Linked DNA regions of Homo sapiens. The protein of the gene in region 1 interacts with the protein of each later gene in a pairwise test. Each region holds a gene or a part of one and is shown in the gene's direction. Other genes may lie near its edges.

Region 1 (3,500 bases):
CACAGAGGCTGATTTGACTAAAATTATCAGAGTCAGAAGGAAACTAAGACTCAGAGAGGTTGACTTGACTAAAATTATCAGTCAGAATTCATTCCTATGCCCGTCAAAAGCATGTGTTCTCTCTGCAACCAGGGCAGGAGGGCAGCTTAGCAGCTACCCTGGTTCCTGCTGGTTGATGCCAAGGCTGTCTGAGTGGTGAATTCACCTAGTAAAGTGTAGTGTTTTTGAAGCTGGAAGGGCTGCATTGCTGAATGTTCAGCAGGCCAGGCACTGTCATTGTAGAACCAATGGGCAGTGTTGGGGGACTGAGAATGGTGCTATGGTAGCAATTTTAAAGAGCCCACTGTGTGCAGTTATTGCTCCATGATGTGATAGAATGACTACCTTCTTATGCATCGTGGTGGGGCAGGAGCTTGAAACACCTGCTTGCCTCTACCATGTCACCAGATCCAATGAGCAACATGCCCCATCCCACTTCTCAGTGGCATTTGACAGGATTCATTAGCCCTTCCTTCTTGAAATACTTTCCTCCCTTGGCTCCAGGACACCTTGCTTCCTTAGTTTCCTTTCTACAGCACTTGTCACTCCTTCTCTGCTCCCTTTTGCAAGATCCCTCTGCTCTTTCTGGTATCTAGACGTTGGGGTCCTCAGACCATCTCTTACACATTCAGTATCATGGCTTTTAATATGAACTAAGCACCGATGACTCTCAGATTCATGTCTTTAGCTTTAACTCTTCCCTGGACTTGGGGCATGCCTAAGTCTCCTAAGTGACACCTCCACATGGATGTCTAATCACTCTCCCAAACTTTACATGGCTAAAAGAACTCTTAATTTTCCACCATGTATTAGCTATCAATATTGCTGCATAACAAATTATCCCAAAACTTCATGGCTTAAAACAAACTGCCTCATGAAGCAAAAAATAGTGCTGTTCAACTAATTTCCCCTAAACTTTAAATAACAAACATTTACTATTTCACAGTTTCTGTAGGTCACAAATTGAGAGGGCTTAGCTGATTGATTGGTTCTGTCTTGGAATCTCTCATGAGGTTGCAGTCAAGGTTTCAAACAGGAACACAGTCATCTGAAGGATCAACTGGACCTGGAGGATCCACCTCCAGAATGGCTCACATGGCTGTTTGCCAGAAGGCCTCAATTTCTAGCTAGCTCTTAGCAGGAGTCCTCAGTTTCTTGCTGCATGGACCTCTCTATTTTATTATTATTATTATTTTTATTATTTCTGAGACAAGGTTTCACTCTGTCATCCAGGCTGGAGTGCAGTGGTGCAATCATAGCTCACTGCAGCCTTGAGCTCCTGGGCTCAAGTGATCCTTCAGCTTTAGCCTCCCAAAGCTCTGGCATTACAGGCATGAGCCACTGCACCCAACCCTTCCAAAGGATTCTTGAGTGTCCTCATGACATGGCAGCTGGTGAAAGCCAAAATAAATGATGTAAGAAAGCAAAGGAACTTGCCATCATCTCTGCCTTTTTCTTTGATCACACAGATTGATCCCAATACAGTGTAGAAGGGGACTACATAGGAATATGAATGTCAGGAGGCACAGGTCATTGAGAGCAATTTGGAAGCTGATTATCACACCCCACAAGCCCTGTTCCTGCCCCTGGATTCCTCATCTCATTAAATGGCCTGTTGCTTAGGCCAAAATCCTGATAGCCATCTTTGATTCCTGTCTTTCAAGATCTCACCCAATCCATCAGCAAATCCTGTCAGCTCCATCTTCAAATCCTGCCCTAGATTTCACCATTTCTCACCCCATCTACAATAACCACCCTAATCTCAGCCCACATTAACTGTGATAAGCTGCTGGCATCCCTGTTTCCACTCTTGCCACCAAAGTCTCTCCTCCAGCAGCCAGAGAGTCAGACTGTGTCATTCCTGTCTGCTTAGCAACCCCCAGTGCTTCCCACCTCACTCGGAGCAAAAGCCAACGTCTTTGCCAAGGTCTTCATGATCTGTCCCCCGGCAGCTTCTCGGCCCATCTTCCTTAGTGGACACACTCCACTATAGCTGAGCGTCTGCTCTTCCTCACAAACTAAGCCTGGATCTGCCTCAGAATCCTGCATGTGCCACTCCCACTGCCCAAACCACCCCTCCTAGGAAAGGGATCTTGCTTTTTCCCTCACTCAGCCAGGCTTCTGCTCCAACGGAACCCCCTCAGAGAGTCCTTCTGTGACTACCCTATCCAAGATGGCATCTCATTACTTTCAACCCCCTCACTCTGCTTTATTTTTCTTAATATTATTCATTACTACTGAAACACACACTGTATATTTACTGGTTTTCTTTATTATTATCTATTTCCTTCTCTGGAGCATAAACCCCAGGAGGGCAGAGATATCATTCATTTTGACTGTTGGTGGACCCTCCCCCTCACACCTAAAACAGTGCATAGCACATCATAGTTGCTCAAATATTAATTTTTGAAATAAATGAATGAATGTGCTGCATGGGAACAATCAATTCATCTAGAATAGTGCCATCCAATAGCCCTTTCTGCAATGAGGAAAATGTTTTATATGTGTACTGTGTGATGTGGTAACTACTGAGTTCTTAAAATGTGACTAGTGTGATTGAGAAACTGAATTTTTAATTTTTAATCTATTTTTGTTTATTTTAAATAGGCACGTGTAGCTTGTAGCTACTATATTAGAATAGATCTAGGTCCTTGGGGTGGATGGTAGGGGAGTGGGATAAGTTAATGCCATTCCATTTACACCCAGTAGAGTGATAGAGACTTTCTGGGGCACTGCATTAAGAAAGAGCCTCAAGTCCAATCAACAGATCTTTTCTGAGTACCTTCTATGTATCCAGCACTGTGTTGTCATCGAGATCTTCCAAAACAGAGTGCATTGATGGATTAGCACTTTCTGCCCTGGGCTAGGAGCATACCACATGACAAGATGTGGTATCTTTACCATCCTGGCCTCAGCAATTCCAGGAGTGGCCAGAGCTCCTTCCTGATTCTTTCCAGGAAGTGACTGCTGGACCTACATATTGTATCATATACCAGTAATCCCCTCACTGGCTTCCCCATTCTCCTCCAATAAATCCCCTCATCCCACTCTTCCAAGTCAGAGTGGATGTTCTTTGCTGGGATCTCTTTCGGGTCTAGCATCATTTTCATTTCACACATACCCCTGCAAAGTCTGATCACTCTCAATTATATTTGTACTTATTTGGTGAGAACATTGCACATGTTCACCCTGTGGTTCACACCACTTAGCACAGGGAGACGTATTTTCCCCTGTACCTACATCTGCTGTGTTATACCTGTGTTATACATATATGTCCATACCACCCTCTAGTATGTGAATTCAGAAGCATGGGAAAAGGCCTCCTACCCCTGAAATGTCTCCCAAAAATGCTAGCTGAAAACTAATGTCCTTTAATGAGGGATGGGGTTTTTCATTACTGAACAAGAAAATAGGGCTTAACAAGCAAGTACACCTTAGATATGACACACGTGAAGTAACCT
Region 2 (3,500 bases), on another chromosome or scaffold:
AAAAAATGAGAATAAAAACCTTGAGAAACCTTAAAGAAAAGAATAGGTGTTTTTTTTTTAAAAAAATGGACTACATATTATTCTGTTTTAAGTATGAATGTATGGACTGTGCCTTGTTTTTTGGTTCTCATTAGCACTGTGATTCTTTTTAGGAAAGTTCCTCTTATAATTACTCTTTCTCCCTAAGGCAATATATTTAAGTCTAATCTGCAGTTCTCATTTCCAATAACATTTATTTTAACGTGAACATTTAAAAATCCTATTTGGAAAATTTCTTCCCTTCTCAAAATTTTTAAGACCAAATGGTTTTCCCCACTTTGTATCACTTTCAGTGTGTTTAGTTTGCATCCTGAAAGTCTGTGTTCTTTAACTGTTGAAGATTATTAATTTACTTAAACAGCTATAAAGCTGTAATACTTTGTTAATCATAAAAAATTATCTGAGATGTTAAAGTATTTTGTTTAAAAGTAAATGAATAATGGGATCCTGGAATAGAAAAAGGACATTATGTAAAAAAGGAAAGAAATCTGAATAAAGTATGGACTTCAGATAATAATGTGTCAATATTGGCTTATTAATTGTGACATATGCACCATACTAATGTAAAATGTTAACAATAGAGGTGCCCTTTATAATGTCTTCACAACTTTTCTGTAAATCTAAAACTATTCTAAAAGTTTATTTAAAAAATTAATGAATAGCAATAAAAACCAAAACATGGGAATTTGTAAGGTTTGCCTTTGTGTACTCTTTACAGCTAGAGCATATGGGCTAAAGGTGGATATATCTTATTTATGAAAACCTAGAAATTTAGTTTCTATTTTTTTGATTGGTTTAGAAATAGAAGCTTATTATAGAAAGTCTTTTTTCTAAACAAAAAGTTAAGAGTTTAGAAAAGCCCCCATGTTTTTGATACTCAGTTACTGTTATATTTGACATATTTTTTTAATTGCTATACAGTGCACTTAAAAATTTTAACACTATTTTTATACACATTTTCTAATGTAGTGGGATAAAATCACCTATCACTTTAGATCATGCTTTTTTCTACATGAAGAGGCAGTAGAGTCGAGTAAGATTCACATGGGTTGAATCTTGCTCTCTGCGTGTGTGATCATATAAACCAACTTCTCTGAGTCTCTGTAGCATCTGTAAAAATGGTTAATAAGTGAGACTATACCTGGAAAGCACTTACTGTACTGTCCAGTATATCACTCAATAAATATTTTATAGCTATTATTAGCTTACTATAATATTGTAAGCATTTTCCTGCCTTGTTCAAACTTTGTAAACATTTTTTATAATCAGAAGAAAACTGTTGTCATAACAATTTACATATGCTCAAAAGTAGTTTTTTCTTCGTTATGGTCATAGGCCCAAGGTAGAAGAGAGGTCTCTCTCTGTGGACCACAGGTTAAGAACCAGTATTGCAGAAGACGAGAAAGTGGAAACTTAAAAAAAATTTATCCTTGATACCACAATTTTTAACAAATTGGGATAATGAGGTATTTTTGTGTTTTAGCACGATTTTTTTTTCACTTAACATAGGCAAATATTTCCCTGTATTATTAAAAATCATTCCAAACATTTCTCACAGGTATGTAATATTCCATTATGTGGTTATGCCACTATGTAGATATACTATTATTTACTGCATGATTCACTTAATGTGAATAAATATTGTCACTGTAACAAATGCCTTAATGACAGCATCTCATTAAATTTTATTAGATTTCATTTCAGAGTGAATCACAGATTATCAGGTTTCTTTTTAATTATTATTTATTTATTTATTTATTTATTTATTGTAGAGTTGGGTTCCCACTATGTTGTTCAGGCTGGTCTCAAACTCTTAGGCTCAAGTGATCCTCCCAAAGTGCCAGGATTACAGGAAAAACACCCAGCTGAGGTTTCTTTTTTAAATTAAAAAAATGTAAATAGACATTTTCAAATATAATGAATCCCCATGTGCCATTTCCCACCTTCAAAAATAATCAACATTTTTGTCTTTCTTGTTTTTATGAGCATTTAAAAATTGTCTCTTGATACATCACCAGATTCCTGATCACAGATTTGCTTTCTGCAAATCTACATTTACTCCAGTAGTACATGGAAATGCCCATTCTTTACCATAGCTGAATAGCTTTAAATCTTTATTAATTTGATAAGCAGAATAGTAATGTGTTGTTTTAATTAGCATATCTTCAGTTGCTAGTAGAGTTTTTTTCAGGTCTTACCTACTTATGCTTCCTTTTTTGAATTGCTTATTTGGGTCATTTGCCCACTTGCTATTGGGCTTATGTGTTTTCTTTTTTTATATGAGTTTATATATTAGGTATGTTAATTTTATTTGTTCCAAGTGTTTAAAAATTTGTTTATGGTATTTTTGAGATATAGAAATTTTTTATTTTTCATAGTCAAATATACCTATCTTTTTTTCGTAGGCACTGTCCAAAAAATTGAATGACACTCATAATGAACTTAATGACATAAAACAGAAGGTTCAAGATACTAATTTGGAGGTTAACAAGCTGAAGAATATATTAAAGTCTGAAGTATGTATTTTTTTTTTCTTTTTGCTCATGATACTTAGTTTTCACTAGAGTTAATTTAGAAGTTGGTATACTCAGAACGACAGGTGAATCAAAGCTTTCTTTAATACATAGTATATTTTAGTTTTGACAATGGTGGGTTAACTACATATTTAGAATGTTCAGAAAGATGCCTGGAGAATATGCCCCTTTTGTTTTGCAACTCTGCCACTCTAGACAAGCAGAATCTTCCTAACTGGATGATGGACAAAGGGCTAAAATCAATTTGACCTCGCTTATAATTAATTGAAAGTGGTGGGGTTTCCAGTTATAAACCTCTGACAAAAGAGGTTCCACCTGATTATGTAGCAGATCAGAATTGGTTACCCTGTTATGGGACCATCTATTTTTTTTAGGACCACAAGGCAGATGGTTCTCCTCACACTTCTCTGTTAGCAATCATTTGACCAGGCACATGTACATGACATCAGATGACTCCAATAAGTGTGGTGCATGTGTGGCAACTCAGGAATAAACAGGCAGCTTTACTGAGGATTTTAGATATGTCTATTAGGTAAAATATTATCTAAAATTGAGGGAGGATGTTCCCATTAATGGTTTGAGTGGTATGTAGGTAACACTATACCTATTATAATAATCAATCCACCTATACTATTTTATCATTTCATGTCAGTCCACAAACATATCTTGAACATTTATTTATGGTATGCATAGTACTGTTAAGGGCTTTGAGACAGAAGAGATTCTAAGGATTTCTAAATTGCAATCCTTGCTTTCAGGCAGCAAGCAGCCTGTGTAGGAAAAGCACGTGGTTTCCTACACTTCCTGATTTTAAGGTTCCAGCAATGTAATACCATAAATGAACAAAAGGCTTTTTATTTATGCAGGCTACTCAGCCTCTCTGATTCTTCCCATCTGTAATCGGGAAGAACACCCAAGTAAGTGAGA
Region 3 (3,500 bases), on another chromosome or scaffold:
CCAGCCTGCTGATTCCAGAGCAGTTGGAATGACCTGGAGGGGGCTCAGGCGGCCCACACGGCTCATTGTTGGGTGCCAGGGATAGCCCAGAGGCTGCTGGGGCAGAGCGTGCAAGGGAGGAGGCCGGTTGGCCCCGTGTTCCCCCAGCTGCACACACCTTCTGATGTGCAGTTGTGCTTTCTGATTTGAAAAGAAATACATGCTCATGTGGAAAATTTTGGAAATGTTCAAAAGGAGAAAAACATCCAGACCCCCGTGCCAGTCCTCCTGCCCTCTGCTTGGTTGTGCCAGTGTCCCAGGCCGTTGGGGGTAAAGGGAGGAAGGCAGCTGCTGACCAGCGGTAAAACCTGCTCTCCCTCTCCCCGCTGTCCAAGCCTTCCTTAGAAAGGGCTGGGCTGTGTGTGAGACAGAGGAAAGCTCTGTAGACACAGGGGTGGCCCTGCCAGTGCACCCAGGCTGGTGACTGCAGTGAGTCCACCCTGGGTTCAAGACAGCTCTGCCTCTTTCTGACTGTGTGACCTTGAGTGAGCCAGAACACAGGCCTGTGCCTCCGGGTCTGCACCTCTGAGAGAGGGGAGGAACAGGAAGAGGCTGCCTTCTTCCCGCCAGCATGTAGGGGGCACTTGGGGGCGTCTGGTGGGAGACCAGTCTGGCCTCCCAGCTGGAGAGTGGGCGTGGCGCGATGTCCTCTTGAGTCAGATGTCCATGCATCCTTCCCTGGTAACCAAGTCCTGACACCTTCTATGAGTCTCGCTCGAAAGCCTTCCAGGCAGAGTTGGCAGGGTCAGAGTGGCACCGAAAGCCTAGGCAGGGCACACAAGGCCTTTGACCACATCCTATCCCTCAGGCATCACGTCCGAGAACGAACGGGAGGTGAGGCAGCTCTCCTCCGAGACCGACCTGGAGAGGGCCGTGCGCAAGGCAGCCCTGGTCATGTACTGGAAGCTCAACCCCAAGAAGAAGAAGCAGGTGGCCGTGGCGGAGCTGCTGGAGAATGTCGGCCAGGTCAACGAGCACGGTGCGAGGATTCACCCTGGGCACCAGCCTTCCCTGGGCGCCAGCCTTCCCACAGGAGCCAGGACCTTCCCATAGGGGCTGGGACCTTCCCTCAGGGGCTGGGTCTTCCCACAGGAGCCGGGACCTTCCCTGTGAGGACAGGGCCCTTCCTTGTGGGGACCAGGGGACCAGAACCTTCCTGTAGAGACCGTGCCCTAGTGGTGAGGTGTGTGGGTGGCATTTTGACAGCATCTGCCCTGGCTCAAGTGCTCACTCATTGAATAAACCAGAGGGTATTCTGCCCAGTGCTCTGTGACCACGTCTACCAATGGGACGGACTGTGTCCATCACCAAGTGGGAGCACGCTACGTGGTGCTGAGTCCACCCCAGCTACTGGAGGTACAGAGGTGTGGCCCCTGCTCTGCCTGCCCTGGGGGCCCTATGATCCCCAGAACGTAGGATGCCCCTGGAACTGGCGTGCCCTAGGAACAGTGCGCCAGTTTCTGGTGGGCTGCAGGGCACGAGGAGATAGTCAACTTGTCTGACTGTTAATCCACCCTGTCCCCTGCAGATGGAGGGGCGCAGCCAGGCCCCGTGCCCAAGTCCCTGCAGAAGCAGAGGCGCATGCTGGAGCGCCTGGTCAGCAGCGAGTGTGAGTGCAGCCCCTGCCCCGTCTCACCCATGCCTCCCAGCCTGCACCTGCAGGGCGACCTCTCCTTCCTGTGCGACTCCATCCTGGCCTGCCCTATCTCACCCGTGCCTCCCAGCCTGCGCCTGCAGGGCGACCTCTCCTTCCTGTGCGACCCCATCCTGGCCCTGCTAGGATCTCAGGCGGTCCGTTTGGGGCTCAGTGTTCTGGACGCTGGGAGTAGACCCTGCCCACCTGGAGCGCACGCACTGGAGGGAAGGCAGACCCAGGACAGAAACCATGATGTGCCAGTCCCTCTTGGACAAGGAAATACTGGGGGTGGGGACTGGCGGGGGGGTCCTGAGTGGGGAAGGATGAGGAGGGCATTAGGGGAAGGGGCTCCGGGCAGAGGGAACAGCATGAGCAAAGGCCCAGGAGACCCAGCAGGGTGTGGAAGGGGCTCTGCCCCAGCGTAGGCCCTTTGTAGGTAGGCAGGGAACAGAGTGGGCAGAGCCTAGGTTGGGGGATAGAGTCTCTGGGGCACACTGAGCTGGGGGTGCCTCTGGGATGTTTGTGGTCAAAGACTGAGAAGAGACGTCACATCCTCCACGTGCAGCTGGCCAGCCTCACTGTCTTCCATCCACGTGGGGTAGACTCTGCAGTCTGAGGCACTGGGAGCTCCTGTCCTGGAGAAGATAGACAGGCAGGAGGCTTGGGGGCTCAGTATCAATGGGGGGATGGGCCAAGACCCAGGTCTGCCACAGACTCTTCTTGTGACATGGGCAGGTCTCATTTTTCTTTCTGGGTGTCAGTTTCCCCTTCTGAACAGTGAGATGATCAGACAAGGGGACTGAAGGACCTCGCCCATCCTAGAAGCCTCTGTGGCATGTAGGGCAGAGTACAGGTGGGAGCACAGATCCCACCTTCCCACTGGGCCCGTGAGGAAACCGTCCATAGGGTGTGGTCAGAGCCCTCGCCTCTGCGTGGGCGGACATGGGTGCTTGCGCTGCTGTTTTCCTGCTCCATTTGGGGGAGACAAAGAAACACCTCACATGGAAGTGGGAAGAAATCTGTGACTCTAGGAAGCCCGAGGACCAGAGAGGCTGTGACAGTGTCCTGCCACCGAGGTGGCATGGTGCCTGCTGTCCTGAAGTGAGGTGCCTCTGGGCAGGAGCAGCCCAGCCTGGGTCTCCATCCTGGGGGGCACTGCAGGCAGAGTCTGGACCCCAACCTCACTTCCCAGTCCCACAGGGGTTTGTGATGAGCCGGGCACACCTGCTGCTGGGCCCTGTCGCTGTTGCTGGGGGCGAGTTAGGAGTCAGCGCTGCCAGCCTGTGGTCCCCTCCGCCAGGCCCTCAGGGACAGGGCCCCAGCACCCCCATTGTTTCCCCTCTATCAGAACGTTCCCATCAGGCATCATCTGTTTCTCTGCCAGCTTTTCCAACAGAACTCCCAGAAAGGGGCGTCTGTCATCCCCTTCTCTCGTCCTCCGTCCTTTGCTCTCAGGCCTCTGCCATGTTATTCCACCAAAGCGGCTCGTCTAGGCCATCAGTGACCCCCCTTGCTCAGTCACTTCTTGTCCTTGTCTGACTTGATCTGTCAGCAGCGTGGGCAGAGATGACTGCTCTTCTCCTTAGAGCCCTCTCCCCCACCAGGCCCGGGGCCCTTGCTGCCACACTGGCTGCTCCTTCTTGGGGTCCCTAGACTGATGTCCTGTCTCTCAGGACAGGACATCCTGCCCAAGGTATTCATCCCTATGAGGACAGGGGCCTTCCTTGTGGGGACCAGGGTCTTCCCGTAGGGACTGTGCTCTGGTAGGGAGATGTGTGGGTGGCATTGGTGACCACTCTCGTGTGTCAGACGCCGTCCTGAACCC
Region 4 (2,461 bases), on another chromosome or scaffold:
TCCCAGCACTTTGGGAGGCCAAGGCGGGCGGATCACGAGGTCAGGAGATCGAGACCATCCTGGCCAACATGGTGAAACCCCGTCTCTGCTAAAAAATACAAAAAAATTTAGCCAGTCGCGGTGGCGGGCGCCTGTAGTCCCAGCTACTCGGGAGGCTGAGGCAGGAGAATGGCGGGAACCCGGGAGGCGGAGTTTGCAGTGAGCTGAGATCGCGCCACTACACTCCAGCCTGGGCGACAGAGCAAGACTCCGCCACAAAAAAAAAAAAAAAAAGAAAAAAAGTAGGATATGATAGATGGTCTCTACATTGGGTATCTGGAAACTGCCAGAGTGTGTCAACACTATACTAACCTATCATTGCTATAGCAGCTGGACTACTGCAAAGTAGTTATATGCATAAAAAATGTAAACTTGCTTTCTGCATATGTGATATACATTCTTGCCATATAAATTTCCTAACTCAGTGATGATTTATTCTACTCAAAACTAAATGTTAACATTTAATACATCTACATGTGATTATGAATATTAGATATGAACATTTCAATTTTCTTAGTAGTATTTAGGCAGACTGGCTTCTGTTAAGTTGGATTTTGTTTGTTTTCTTTATTTAAATAGGATTATTACAGCACCAAAAAACTTCTCTGAAGCCTTTCTCCACAACCTTGTTCTATGGATTCCATAATGTTACAATGGATTTAAGCTATGAAGCCTCAAAACATCACGAGATAAGCATGATGGTCTCAGACTTGGGAAAACTGCCTAATATTATGCTGTAGTGGAATTATGTTTAGATTTGAATTCATCTGTGAAGCATTCAAATCAAAGCTAAAAGCCTAAATGTGAAATGCTAATGACAAGCCTGAGAAGGTAAACTGTGAATCTTCATTTCTATCATTGATCTAACTTTAGATATTGGATCAATATATTTAGGTGGTATTGAAAATGCTATTGGAGGAGTCACACTAATACTATCAACTATCAGTCTTCCCACAGCTTCAATCACTGTCATTATTCTAATCCTACTCCTACTTAAATTTTAAGTTATGAGGTTTATGTCAAAAGCAACATTTCACAAATGTACTTTTAAGGCATAATAAGGGTTAACATTCTAGGCAGTATAAACACACCCCATAATGCAAGTAATAGGTAATCTAGAGATGTGGACTTTATTGCTATATGGGAATTACATTTAAATTTGAGGGCATTTTATATAAAGAAAAATACAGACCTATAAAGTTTGGCATATTCATTAAGTTATCTTTTAATATTTTTTTCTAGAAAACAGGTGACATTTGTATCTACGATAAAAATTTTTATACAGAACCTACTGCCTCAAACTGAATCCCATCAAGAAAACTAGTTTCTATTGTATTAGTAACTCAAAATAAATTATCACTTCGAAAACTTGCTTTCCCACACTAAGGTAAGTTCAGACTAGATTGAACACTCCAGAATTTTTTACTACAGACTGTTTTTAAGTTAGAAGTGATGGCAATTTTATAAATAGAGAATATACTTCCACTGATGCCCTTACTGTGCCAAAACAAAAATCTTAAGAAAAGCAAGTAGACACCTTCATAACTATGAATGAAGCTGCTGAAGTAGTGTTTAGGATCCTCCATGGCAGTTAGTGAATGTAAGAAGTACAGTGTTAAAGTGTTGTAAACAGTTACTCAGTGCAATGTATAGCCTGAGTCTATCCATGATGGCTATATCCAATTTGACATCACGTTATGGATCAGTACACAATGAAAAACCAAAGAACCACAGTATATCTTATTCTTAACTTTTGTAAACCATGTTTTATGGGTAACTTTTTAGTTTTCCCAAAAGGCTGATAAATTTCAATATTTTGAATACATCATTGTTAATTTTGAGTTGGCAGAGGTAAACTAACCAACTACCATTATGTTTTAGTACTAAGGGATATACCTTTCAATAAAGTTAATGAAATTCAATCCTTTGCTGGGTGGCTTTTTTCTCCTCTGATTTAATTAACTCTTTTAGCAATGTGTTAACAGAACATTATAAAAAGCTATCTCTACTCAGTATATTTAAATTTAGTACTAAAGTTAGATGCATAGTACCAGAAACAATAAAATCCCTATTAATAATATGACTATTAGATGACACTTTACTTTGTTTTTTCTGAAACATTATAAAAAGCTCTCTCTACTCAGTATATTTAAATTTAGTACTAAAGTTAGATGCATAGTACCAGAAACAATAAAATCCCCATTAATAATATGACTATTAGCTGACACTTTGTTTTGTTTTTTCTGAAACATTATAAAAAGCTCTCTCTACCCAGTATATTTAAATTTAGTACTAAAGTTAGATGCATAGTACCAGAAACAATAAAATCCCTATTAATAGTATGACTATTAGCTGACACTTTACTTTTTGTTTTTTCTGAGACAGGGTCACTCTTGTCACCCAGGCTGGAGTGCAGTGGCGC
Region 5 (3,500 bases), on another chromosome or scaffold:
TTGGTAGGTATTTTCTCACGTGGCCGGGGCAGCCTAGGACCTAGGGTTGCTTTCTGCCAAAGCTGGTTCCATTCCGGCCTCACCTCCTGCCTCCTCAGGGTGCCAGCCGGGCCGCCGATGACGCCGAGCGGGAGCGCAGGGACCGAGAGGAGCGGCTGAGACACTCGCGGAACCCGGCTACCCGCGGCCTCCCTTCCACAGCCTCCGGCCGCCTGCGGGGGACGCAGGAAGTGGCTCCCCCCACACCCCTCACCCCTACCTCACACACGGGTGAGTGCCCCCCTCCCAGCGCTCTGGGGCTGGCTCTGGGGTGACTTCTTGTGTCTTGGGGTTGGTGGGGACAACAGGGTACTTGGTGGTGGACACTAAGTGCCCTGTGTCAGGCGATGCTCGCTCCTGAGGGTGGATGAGCCAGGCTGCCCAGGCGCCTTTAGAAATGCCGGCACCTGCTGGTGTGCGTGATTCCTCCCGCATCTCACGTTCCTCCCCTGTGAGCCCCTTGACCTCGCTCCCATGTCCCTTTGTGTCCCTCCGGCCGGATCTGAGTGTTGGTGGCCATCGGCCACAGCCAGGTCCTGACTGTCCAGGCAGCCCAGGGTCCTCTCTGGCCACAGCCTCTCATAGAAAGCCCCGAGTGAGAGGCAGCAGACGGGGGCGGCCCACTCCGTTTCTCTCCCTGTCCTCAGCTAACACCTCCCCCCGGCCCGTCTCCGGCATGGAGAGAGAGCGGAAAGTGAGTATGCGGCTGCACCGCGGGGCCCCCGTCAACATCTCCTCGTCCGACCTCACAGGCCGACAAGATACCTCTCGCATGTCCACCTCACAGGTAGGTGCAGAGCTCCCGGGCGGGCGCTGGGCCTCGGGCTACCCCGTCCGAGTCAAGAGCGGGCTGTGGTTTCTCCAGGGCTTCTTCTTTCCTTTCTTCCCCCCATTTTTGAGAGTTTTTAATCTCGCCAGGGTGTGGCGTCTTGGTTGCAGATGAGGCTTCTCGGGAGGGCCTGGGAGACATGCTGGGCCGTCATGGGGCTTGTCTCCTGGTTGCAGGTGGCCAGTCTCAGGTCTCAGGTCCCTGAGGCCAGCAAACCGTGGGGGCTTTCTCCTGCTGTTTGAGTGCCCCGCTGCCCGCAGCCGTCCCCAGGCAGCTGACACCGCTCGCCTGCTTGCGCCCCATTGTGGGTGCCCCCAGCCCGAGGGAGCCTTCCTCATTCTTCCTCATTCTTGCCACTGGCCAGGGATGGAGGCCCGTAGGGACCTCCACGGGCTTCTTGTGAGACCCTCCCTGGTGGCATGCCCTGCAACGAGGCTTTCCTTCTTTTGACGGCCTCACCTGTCTTCCCTTGGACGAGAAGTACCCTGTTGCGCAGCCCAGGCCTAGCCACGGCCACCGCCTCTTCAGCATCCTGCAGCGGTCTCTCCTCTCCTCGCTCTGGCTTTTGTTGTCTTTTGCGTTTGCTAACGTGCTCTTTGAACTAGAACAGCTTTCTCCATATGGATCCATTATATTTCTTCAAATAGTTTTCTGGGTTGTTCGCCAACAGGGGCAGGGTTAGTGGGGCAGGGCTGTTTCACCAGCAGGCATCCTGGGGGGTGCCCAGATCCCCCACGGGTCTTCCGGATGAGCAGGAACTCAGTTCAGAAATGCCCTGGAGCCTGGCTCTGGGCTTGTGGGGAGGTGTTTGTTGGGATCACAGGATGGAGCCAGGCCTGCTGCCGTGAGCGGGGCTGGGTGTAGCTGGCTAGCCAGGAACATGCCGGAGTGGGGAGCACTCTTGACCACTTGCCGTCTTTTAATGATTGGGGTTTTACTGCACGTTTCTAATTCACTAATAATTTCACTAGAAACAGACCTTTTTGTATAACTTCTTCCCAAAGAGACCAAAGATGCAGGGATTTTGGCTTCGTGGTTATTTTGACTTTGTGGTTATATGAATTGGGCTCGAGGGGTCTGGGCTGCGTCACGAGAATGGGTCCCTTACGTGCACACAACCCTGCTGTCACCTCCAGACACAGCACAGAAAGGGTTTAACTGGCTTCTTTCCACGAGCCTGGCACTTGCGCATCAGTTCCTGTGAGCAGTTCCCGGGAGGGTCTGCCCGTGCCCTCGTGTCTTGATGTGCGGCTGGCTCTGTAGCCCCTGAACCATGGTACAGGAGCCCAGAGTGCTCCCCATGCTGGGTGCTGACCGGACTTGGACAGCCTCGCCCCAGCGCTTGGCTGACAAAGACTAGGGAAGGGGCCTGAGTGCTTTTTGTTTCTTTTAAAGAAAGTAAAGTGTCCAGTGGTTTGGGATCTTTGTGGGCAGTGAAGGTGTCCTGAGCGTGCTGAGTAGCCACAGCCCTGAGTCCAGCTGCCTTTTCTCGGTACACGGCCTTGGCGGCACCTGGGTGTGGCTGTTGTAGCCACCAGCCCCCAAGGTGGCCGTGAGCAGTGTCTCCTTCCATGGTGAGCTGTGGCAGGAACCCGCAGCTGGCTCTTAGGCCCTCGTTTTCCATATGAGGAAATACAACGTGGGCTCTAACAGCAGGGAGGAGTCTCCAGAGAGAGCTGGTTTGGGGGTGTGTTCTCTCCAAAAGAAGCCTCTTGGCCTCTGCTCCTGGACACCCTGGGGGGCCTTCCTGAGAGGCATGTTGAGGGCTCCCCACCTCCAGGGCGGGCCCCCTCCTTTGTCACCATCTCACAGGAAGGCTTTGGCCGTGTGTCCTTCCTGCCAGACTCTGCCAGCACCAGCACACGTGGTGGCTGTGAGCAGCAGCTCCCGTTTTGAATCCCAAGGGGGAATACAGGAGGCTCAATTGCTCTGAGCGCCTCACCTGTTTGCTCGGGTGAGCTGGAGACACAGTCACCGTGGGCAGTGACTCATCCCCGGCCAGTCTTCCTCCTCGGGCCGTCGCTCTTCCCTGTTCTTTCTGCTCCTCTCAGGAGACCTTGCGCCCTGTGGAGATGGGAGGAGGCAGCAGGAAGGTCTCCCAGGGCTTGCTGGCCGTGGCTGGGTGTGGATGGGTGGAAGACCACGTGGCAGCCTGCCTGTAGGTCACAGAGGCCCCCATAGTTGTAGGGCCCCGCCCCAGCCCGGACTCCGCCTGGGTCTGTTCCCTCTTCGCCCCCTCTCTTTTCGGGCTGTTGGTGTTCGGCCAGGGCTCTTTGGCTACAGTAGCCTGGGCCCTAAAGGCCATCTAGTTGCTGAGTCTGTTTGGGGTTTTTACTTGGTGAGAAGAAGGCCTTGTCATTCCAACAGTCGATGACTCGCTTTGATCAACTCCTGCCCAGGACTAGGCCTGAGCCCTGTCGTCGTACCGGCGAGGATGTGCGTCTCCCCTGCCTTCAGGCTGTGCCCTGAGACCCAGTTGTGGGGCTGCCCAGCACCTGCCATCCTGCTGGGATCAGGTTTTCTTAGTGCTTGAGAAGACTCAGGAGGGCCTGTCCCATGCCATTGTTGGCCTTAAGAGCAAGTGATTCCAGAAGAGGAGTGGGCACCACTCTCATCCAGAGGCCCGTCCTGA
Region 6 (3,500 bases), on another chromosome or scaffold:
ATTCTCATAAGGAGTGGGCAGCCTAGCTCCCTCATATGTGCAGTTCACAATAGGGTTCATACTTCTATGAGAATCTAATGCCCACTTCGATCTGACAGGAGGCGGAGCTCAGGCAGTAATGTATGCGATTGGGAAGCAGCTGTAAATACAGATGAAGCTTGCCTGCCACTCACTTCCTTCTATGCAGCCCGGTTCCTCACAGGCCACCAGAAGTTGGGGGCCCTTGCTATAGTGCTTCTGTTCAAGCCCTGAGGCAACGAAATTCCTTATCCTTTCTTGCCAAATCCGATCTGCCTTTATCTAATCAGAGGTATTGATACTGCCTCTCCATGTGGTCTGAGGATGCTTCTCCACCCTGCTCCTCTGGGTAGCAGCTGTGTCCCATTTACAACTTGTTCTGTCTGTTCTTGTAGCTCTTTATTTACTAGGAATCTACAGAATAATTCTTTCTCACAGGCTGGGCAAGGTGACTCATGCCTGTAATCCCAGCACTTTGGGAAGCTGAGGCGGGTGGATCACCTGAGGTCAGGAGTTCAAGACCAGCCTGGCCAACATGGTGAAACCCCATCTCTACTAAAAATACAAAAAACTAGCTGGGCATGGCGGACGTGCCTGTAATTCCAGCTGCTTGAGAGGCTGAGGCACGAGAATTGCTTGAACCCAGGAGGCGGAGGTTGCAGTGAGCAAAATTGCGCCACTGTACTCCAGCCTGGGTGACAGAGGGAGACTCTGTCTCAAAAAAAAAAAAAAAAAAAATTCTTTCTCACAGGTAATTAATCTTTCTGTTAATTCTTTTTTTATAGCAAGGAAGATGTCCGAGCAACTGAAAAAGACAAGGTTGTTGGTTGGTTCTTTTTTTTTAATGGCTTTACGTATCTCAATCCCTTAAAAGTATTATCTCAGGCCAGGCATGGTCACACACACCCGTAATCCCAGTACTTTGGGAGGCTGAGGCGGGAGGATCACTTGAGTCCAGGACTTCAAGACCAGCCCTGGCAACATAGCGAGACCCTGTCTCTACAAAAATTTTAAAAATTCAAAAATTGGCCAGGCATGGTAGCTCATGCCTGTAGTCCCAGCTGCTTGAGAGGATGTGGCTGGAGGATTGCTTGAGCCCAGGAGTTTGAGGTTAAGTGGTGGCACGCACCTGTAGTCCTAGCTACTTGGGAGGCTGAGGCAGGAGGATCCCTTGGTCCAGCAGTCCAAGGCTGCAGTGAGCTACCATTGCATCACTGCACTCCAGCCTGGGTGACACAGTGGGATCCCACCTCTTAAAAAAAAAGAAAAAAGGGCCGGGTGCAGTGGATCACACCTGTAATCCCAGCTCTTTGGGAGGCCAAGGTGGGCGGATCACAAGGTCAGGAGTTCAAGACCAGCCTGACCAACATGGTGAAACCCCGTCTCTACTAAAAATATAAAAACTAGCCTGTGTCGTGCCATGCACCTATAATCCCAGCTACTCAGGAGGCTGAGGCAGGAGAATCGCTTGAACCCGGGAGGCAGAGGTTGCAGTGAGCCGAGATCGCACCACTGCACTCCAGTGTGGGCGACAGAGCGAGACTCCATCTCAAAAAAAAAAAATTTTCATTTGTATGATAATACTGTAGAAGCAATTAAAAGTTCTTGACTTGACATGAGTAATGATGATTTCTACCCTCCAGGATTAGAAAGTAGATTGGCTTTACCAGAAGCGTTCACAGTTTCATATAGACCCAGTCTAGAGCTTTCACTTAACATTCCTGTTCTTTCTTTACAGGTTGAAATTTATAAGAGTTTCCGCCCAGGTGACATTGTCTTGGCCAAAGTGGTATCCTTTATTCCCAGCAGACTTCTGGTCCTTTGTCAAAAGAAGAGAAGGAGGCCGGGTGTGGTGGCTCATGCCTGTAATCCCAGCACTTTCGGAGGCCAGGGCGGGTGGATCACCTGAGGTCAGGAGTTCGAGACCAGCCTGGACAACATGGTGAAACCCTGTCTCTACTAAAAATACAAAAATTAGCTGGGCGTGGTGGCACATGCCTGTAATCCCAGCTATTCGGGAAGCTGAGGCAGGAGAACCGCTTGAACCTGTGAGGCAGAGGTTGTGAACTGATATCACGCCACCGCACTCCAGCCTGGTTAACGGAGCAAGACTCCATCTCAGAAAAAAAAAAAGGTAGAAAAACAACTCAGGTGGCTAAGGTGGGGGAAGACTTCTAACTCCTCATTTTCCTTCACCGGTGTTATGTGACTAGATCTCCTTAGGTGATGCACAGTCCAACTACCTGCTAACCACCGCCGAGAACGAGCTGGGAGTGGTGGTAGCCCACAGTGAGTCAGGTGAGATGGCCTTGTTTCCACATCCTTACTTTCCCTGGATCTATGGTTTGGGATAAATCCATTGTTTTTCCTGGTTTCCCTTATCTGGGAAGCAGTATGGCTATAGATATTTCCCTCTGAGATTAGAATGATTATTTTTTTCTTTTTTGCTTGGTGCTGGTGGTGGTGGTTGTTTGAGACAGGGTCTCACTTTGTCGAGGAGGCTGGAGTGCAGTGGTGCCATCTCCACTCACCACAGCCTCCACCTCCTTGGTTCAAGCAATTCTTGTCACCCAAGTAGCTGGGATTACAGACACACGCCACCACACCTAGCTAATTTTTGTATTTTTAGTAGAGACAGGGTTTCGCCATGTTGGCCAGGCTGGTCTCAAACTCCTGGCCTCAAATGATCTGCCCGCCTTGGCCTCCCAAAGTGCTGGGATTACAGGTGTGAGCCACCACGCCCAGCCTGATTCTCCTTATATAAATCCAAGGAAACGGGACTCACTTCATAAGTCAGTAGAATGAACAAAGTTTTTTCTTTATGAGTTGAGGTTCAGTAGGAAGCTTGGTGGCACTTCAGCTTCATACCCAGCATAAAAGAGGAGTCGCAGGCAAATCTTTGGGGTCTGGGCTCCACCACCAGCTTTTCCCTTCCAGGTATCCAGATGGTTCCCATCAGCTGGTGTGAGATGCAGTGCCCTAAGACCCACACTAAAGAATTCCGGAAAGTAGCCCGAGTACAACCCGAATTCTTGCAGACCTAAGAAGCCACTTTTTACCCTATGGAAGGGGGTAAGCTGTTCCTGAGTATAACACCAAGATGCTGCTGTCTTTATTCAAACACCTGGCGTCGGCCAACAGCCACTTCCAGAAAAATCTTCCAGTTTACGCTGTAGATGGAACATGTTTCTGTGAACCTATCAGTGGATTTCATTCTCTTGAGTAATAAATCTTATCTTTTCAAGGCACCAACAAACAAAACTGTGATATTGGAAATAGCCTATCCCTCCTGACAGTCCTTATAAATACATATTTTTTGCTATGATAAAACTTTTTTACTAAAAGGATGTTATAGAGTCTGTTGTCTTAAGCAGAGAAAGACATCTAAATGGTGTCAGGACATTTCAGTACTTCTGCTTATTGAGTACTTACTGTGCTAGGCACTGAGTCAGGTGCTTTACATACGTCCCCTTCATTTAGGT
Region 7 (3,500 bases), on another chromosome or scaffold:
GGAAAATTCTTCTTCCAGGGAGCGTTCCCAGACTCCTCCCCATCCTCCAGCACCCTTTGGCTGTGCCCACCCGTGGCTGCCCCCAGGGCTTGTGTCTGGTGTTTATATCTTTTCTCTGCCTAGGGGCGGGCCCACCTTCTCTTTGCTGTCTCACAGGAACCCCCAGCCTGTGCTATGTTGATGCCCAGGCCAAATCTTTCTCATGACCTTTCTTCATGCAGGTGCTGCCCGCAGATGAGATCCCTAAGCCCATCAAGCCCCCGACCTACCAGGTGCTGGAGTATGGAGAGGCTGTGGCCCAGTACACCTTCAAGGGGGACCTGGAGGTGGAGCTGTCCTTCCGCAAGGTGGGCCAGGCCGGAGACGGAGGGGTGGGTGGGGGCAGGTGAAGATGTAGGTAAATATGTGCACTAAAAACAGTTTTTTTTTTTTGAGACAGAGTCTCACTCTATCGCCAGGCTGTAGCGCAGTGGTGCCATCTCGGCTCACTGCAACCTCCGCCTCCCGGGTTCAAGCAATTCTCCTGCCTCAGCTTCCCGAGTAGCTGGGACTACAGGCACGCGCCACAACACCCAGCTAATTTTTGTATTTTTAGTAGAGACAGGGTTTCACGATGTTGGCCAGGATGGTCTCAGTCTCTTGACCTCATAATCCACCCGCCTCAGCCTCCTAAAGTGTTGGGATTACAGGCGTGAGCCACCGCGCCTGGCCTAAAAACACTTCTTTAAAAAAGAGTCCGATGTACCTAGCTTCACCCAGGATTTCAAAGTTTTCCCCAGTCTCTTTCATTATGCTTCCTTTAGTGTAGTGGCTTTTTTTTGCTTTTTTTTGAGACAGCATCTCACTATGTTGCCCGGGCTGACCTTGAACTCCTGGGCTCAAGCGATCCCCTGTCCCTGCCCCAGCCTCCCAAGTAATTTTGGTCCATTTTTAAAAGATCATCATAAACTTCTAGAGTTACATATATATTTTTTCAACTGCAGGTTGCAGGGGATCATACTCAGCATTTTTAAAGGTATAGACAGAAATGTTAGCATGCGTTGCGAGCAGAAAGCACTTTATCATACCGTAGGCAGTTCTGTGTATGCACATATATATGTATTCTGGGCTGTTATTAAAACATTTTTAACTGTAGATTGTGGTGAAACAAGTTTGAAAAATGCTGTTCTAGAAAGCAGGGAAGTGGTCTGCCTTTGGTTGATTTTGGGAGCAGTGATCATGCTCCCAAAATAAGCGAAAGACGGCCCATAGTGAATGCCTCCCAGAAGAGCTGGCCCCAGGGACAGAGGGGGAAGAAGGTGGCTGGATGGAGACAGATGGGGGCAGGAGAGGACAGGGGAAGGCAAGGGCTGGAGGCCACCCTCCCAGGGGGTGGTTCTACCTAATGTCAGCCAGCCTGTGGCCTTCAGGACTCCCTGCCTGTCCTGGGGAGTGTGTTTTTGACACGCTCATGACAAGGTCCCCCAGCGTGAGGCAGGAACAGGACCCAGGCAGGGCAGTAGTGGTAGCACCTGTCCAGTGTGTCTAAGGAGTGGACTGTTGATCTCGTTCACACCTCATAGTGACAGTATGGTTATTTTCACTTAACATAGGAGAAAACAAGGCTCAGAGAGACAGAGCAGGCTGCCTGAGGCCACACAGCTTGGCCTGGTGGAGCTGGGTTTGGATCTGTATTATTAGCCACGGGCTCACCTGTGATCGGAGCTCTGGGGAGGGACCTTGCTATGAACGCCGAAGGGGGATGCACACCCGTTGAGCTTCCAAGAGGCAGGACCCAGTCTCAGCCTCAGCCTTGCCTGGGCAGCCTGGGCTTGGCTCCTGGCTCCTGCTCTTACCGTGTGACTCGGGTAAACTGCTGGCCCCCTGCGATTCCGACCCCTCGTGTGTCCAAGGTGTTAGGGTTGAATGAGACAGCCCAGATAAGGCACCCGTGGGTCCATGGCACCAGGAAGGCCCCACAGACACTGACTTTTCCCCCCTCAGGGAGAGCACATCTGCCTGATCCGCAAGGTGAACGAGAACTGGTACGAGGGACGCATCACGGGCACGGGGCGCCAAGGCATATTCCCTGCCAGCTACGTGCAGGTGTCTCGTGAACCCCGGCTCCGGCTCTGTGACGACGGCCCCCAGCTCCCCACGTCTCCCCGCCTGACCGCTGCCGCCCGCTCAGCCCGTCACCCCAGCTCCCCCTCAGCCCTGCGCAGCCCAGCTGACCCCATCGACTTGGGGGGACAGACCTCCCCCCGTCGCACTGGCTTCTCCTTCCCCACCCAGGAGCCTAGACCCCAGACCCAGGTGAGGTAGCCTGCCTCCACCAGAGAGTCGACCTCCTCCTCACCCCTCATCCCCCACCCCCGTGACTTGTCCACACTTGGGACTCCTTCCCAGACAGCCCTGGGACATAGGAGTGGGGTGACAGGGCAGAAGCTAGTATGGCAGCCCCACCCTGGCCTGGGGGACCTCAACCTACCGAGCTCTAGCCGAGGGAGCTCTAGATGGAATCCCAAAGCCGGCCCAGGCTCCTGACCCTGGGTGTTCTTGGTTCATCCATGCTGGCGTCCAGAAACCCAGGCACTGACCTTACTTGGGCCTCAGTTTTCTGGCCCCTGTGAAATGAAATAGTCACAGCAGGTGTCCCTGTGCCCTGGGGGTTTGGAGGCTAAGATGAAGCCGTTTGTAAGGCGTGCTGGCAGGTGGACTGGGAACGCCCATTTTGGGCCTCCTCCCTCAGGCTTACATGTACCCATCGTCTTCCTCCCTCTGACATCCCTTTCTTCCTGTCAACTCCCAGAATCTTGGCACCCCTGGTCCAGCTCTGTCCCACTCTCGAGGTCCCAGCCATCCCCTGGACCTGGGGACCTCCTCTCCTAACACCTCTCAGATACACTGGACCCCGTGAGTACCATCTGAGGGCTCTTGATCAGACGTGGGGGGGGTCACTGGCAGGCAATGCCCCATATTCCACCCTCCCCCAAGTCCCCACCTGTGGATTTGGGAAACTTCTACCAGGTAGCCCTTGTCCTCGAAGAGCTTATGGTGATTTGGGGCAGGGAGGAGGCGCTGGTCTGTGATGTTCCCAATCCCTCCTGGCAGCTATGTGGCCTTGTGGCCTTGGTCTCCTCATTGGGTTTCTAGCCCTGAGGTCGGTGCATGTATAATTGAAGTGTGGAACTGGTGGAATGGACAGGAAGGCACCAGGTGCTCAGAGGAGGCGAGGGTTCAGTGCTTAGGGCCCAGAGGGCAGGAGGCAGGCCTGGGAAAGACTACGGTGAGCACAGGCTGAGTTGCTCTGAGGAGCTGGATCAGGGGCTAGTGAGAGCATGAAGGGACCCTGGGGCATTCACAGGAAGCGGCAACACTTGGGTTAGAGCCTCTGGGCCCATTCTCTGGTTGCCATGATACGCTTCTCGCAGGTACCGGGCGATGTACCAGTACAGGCCCCAGAACGAAGACGAGCTGGAGCTGCGCGAGGGGGACAGGGTGGATGTCATGCAGCAGTG

What was found.
Region 2: the proteins of PAK5 (region 1) and TSGA10 interact in binary tests that used the Homo sapiens proteins (3 or more experiments, as listed by UniProt).
Region 3: the proteins of PAK5 (region 1) and WFS1 interact in binary tests that used the Homo sapiens proteins (3 or more experiments, as listed by UniProt).
Region 4: the proteins of PAK5 (region 1) and CCNG1 interact in binary tests that used the Homo sapiens proteins (3 or more experiments, as listed by UniProt).
Region 5: the proteins of PAK5 (region 1) and CSNK1D interact in binary tests that used the Homo sapiens proteins (3 or more experiments, as listed by UniProt).
Region 6: the proteins of PAK5 (region 1) and EXOSC1 interact in binary tests that used the Homo sapiens proteins (3 or more experiments, as listed by UniProt).
Region 7: the proteins of PAK5 (region 1) and SORBS3 interact in binary tests that used the Homo sapiens proteins (3 or more experiments, as listed by UniProt).

Annotation. Positions count from the first base shown.
Region 1 is NC_000020.11:9,566,577-9,570,076, reverse strand, and holds part of PAK5 (serine/threonine-protein kinase PAK 5), read left to right. Parts: intron 1-3,500.
Region 2 is NC_000002.12:99,067,943-99,071,442, reverse strand, and holds part of TSGA10 (testis-specific gene 10 protein), read left to right. Parts: intron 1-2,444; coding exon 2,445-2,555; intron 2,556-3,500. UniProt on the Homo sapiens protein: Plays a role in spermatogenesis. When overexpressed, prevents nuclear localization of HIF1A.
Region 3 is NC_000004.12:6,290,350-6,293,849, forward strand, and holds part of WFS1 (wolframin), read left to right. Parts: intron 1-847; coding exon 848-1,018; intron 1,019-1,567; coding exon 1,568-1,648; intron 1,649-3,500. UniProt on the Homo sapiens protein: Participates in the regulation of cellular Ca(2+) homeostasis, at least partly, by modulating the filling state of the endoplasmic reticulum Ca(2+) store.
Region 4 is NC_000005.10:163,443,056-163,445,516, forward strand, and holds the end of CCNG1 (cyclin-G1), read left to right. Parts: intron 1-618; coding exon of another isoform or gene 619-685; 3' UTR 686-1,961; downstream 1,962-2,461. UniProt on the Homo sapiens protein: May play a role in growth regulation. Is associated with G2/M phase arrest in response to DNA damage. May be an intermediate by which p53 mediates its role as an inhibitor of cellular proliferation.
Region 5 is NC_000017.11:82,246,201-82,249,700, reverse strand, and holds part of CSNK1D (casein kinase I isoform delta), read left to right. Parts: exon of another isoform or gene 1-3; intron 4-98; coding exon 99-270; intron 271-686; coding exon 687-826; coding exon of another isoform or gene 827-982; exon of another isoform or gene 983-3,229; intron 3,230-3,235; coding exon of another isoform or gene 3,236-3,337; exon of another isoform or gene 3,338-3,500. UniProt on the Homo sapiens protein: Essential serine/threonine-protein kinase that regulates diverse cellular growth and survival processes including Wnt signaling, DNA repair and circadian rhythms. It can phosphorylate a large number of proteins.
Region 6 is NC_000010.11:97,436,007-97,439,506, reverse strand, and holds part of EXOSC1 (exosome complex component CSL4), read left to right. Parts: intron 1-803; coding exon 804-837; coding exon of another isoform or gene 838-844; intron 845-1,756; coding exon 1,757-1,807; intron 1,808-2,231; coding exon 2,232-2,316; intron 2,317-2,955; coding exon 2,956-3,062; 3' UTR 3,063-3,500. UniProt on the Homo sapiens protein: Non-catalytic component of the RNA exosome complex which has 3'->5' exoribonuclease activity and participates in a multitude of cellular RNA processing and degradation events.
Region 7 is NC_000008.11:22,568,927-22,572,426, forward strand, and holds part of SORBS3 (vinexin), read left to right. Parts: intron 1-221; coding exon 222-347; intron 348-1,983; coding exon 1,984-2,295; intron 2,296-2,791; coding exon 2,792-2,895; intron 2,896-3,413; coding exon 3,414-3,500. UniProt on the Homo sapiens protein: Vinexin alpha isoform promotes up-regulation of actin stress fiber formation. Vinexin beta isoform plays a role in cell spreading and enhances the activation of JNK/SAPK in response to EGF stimulation by using its third SH3 domain.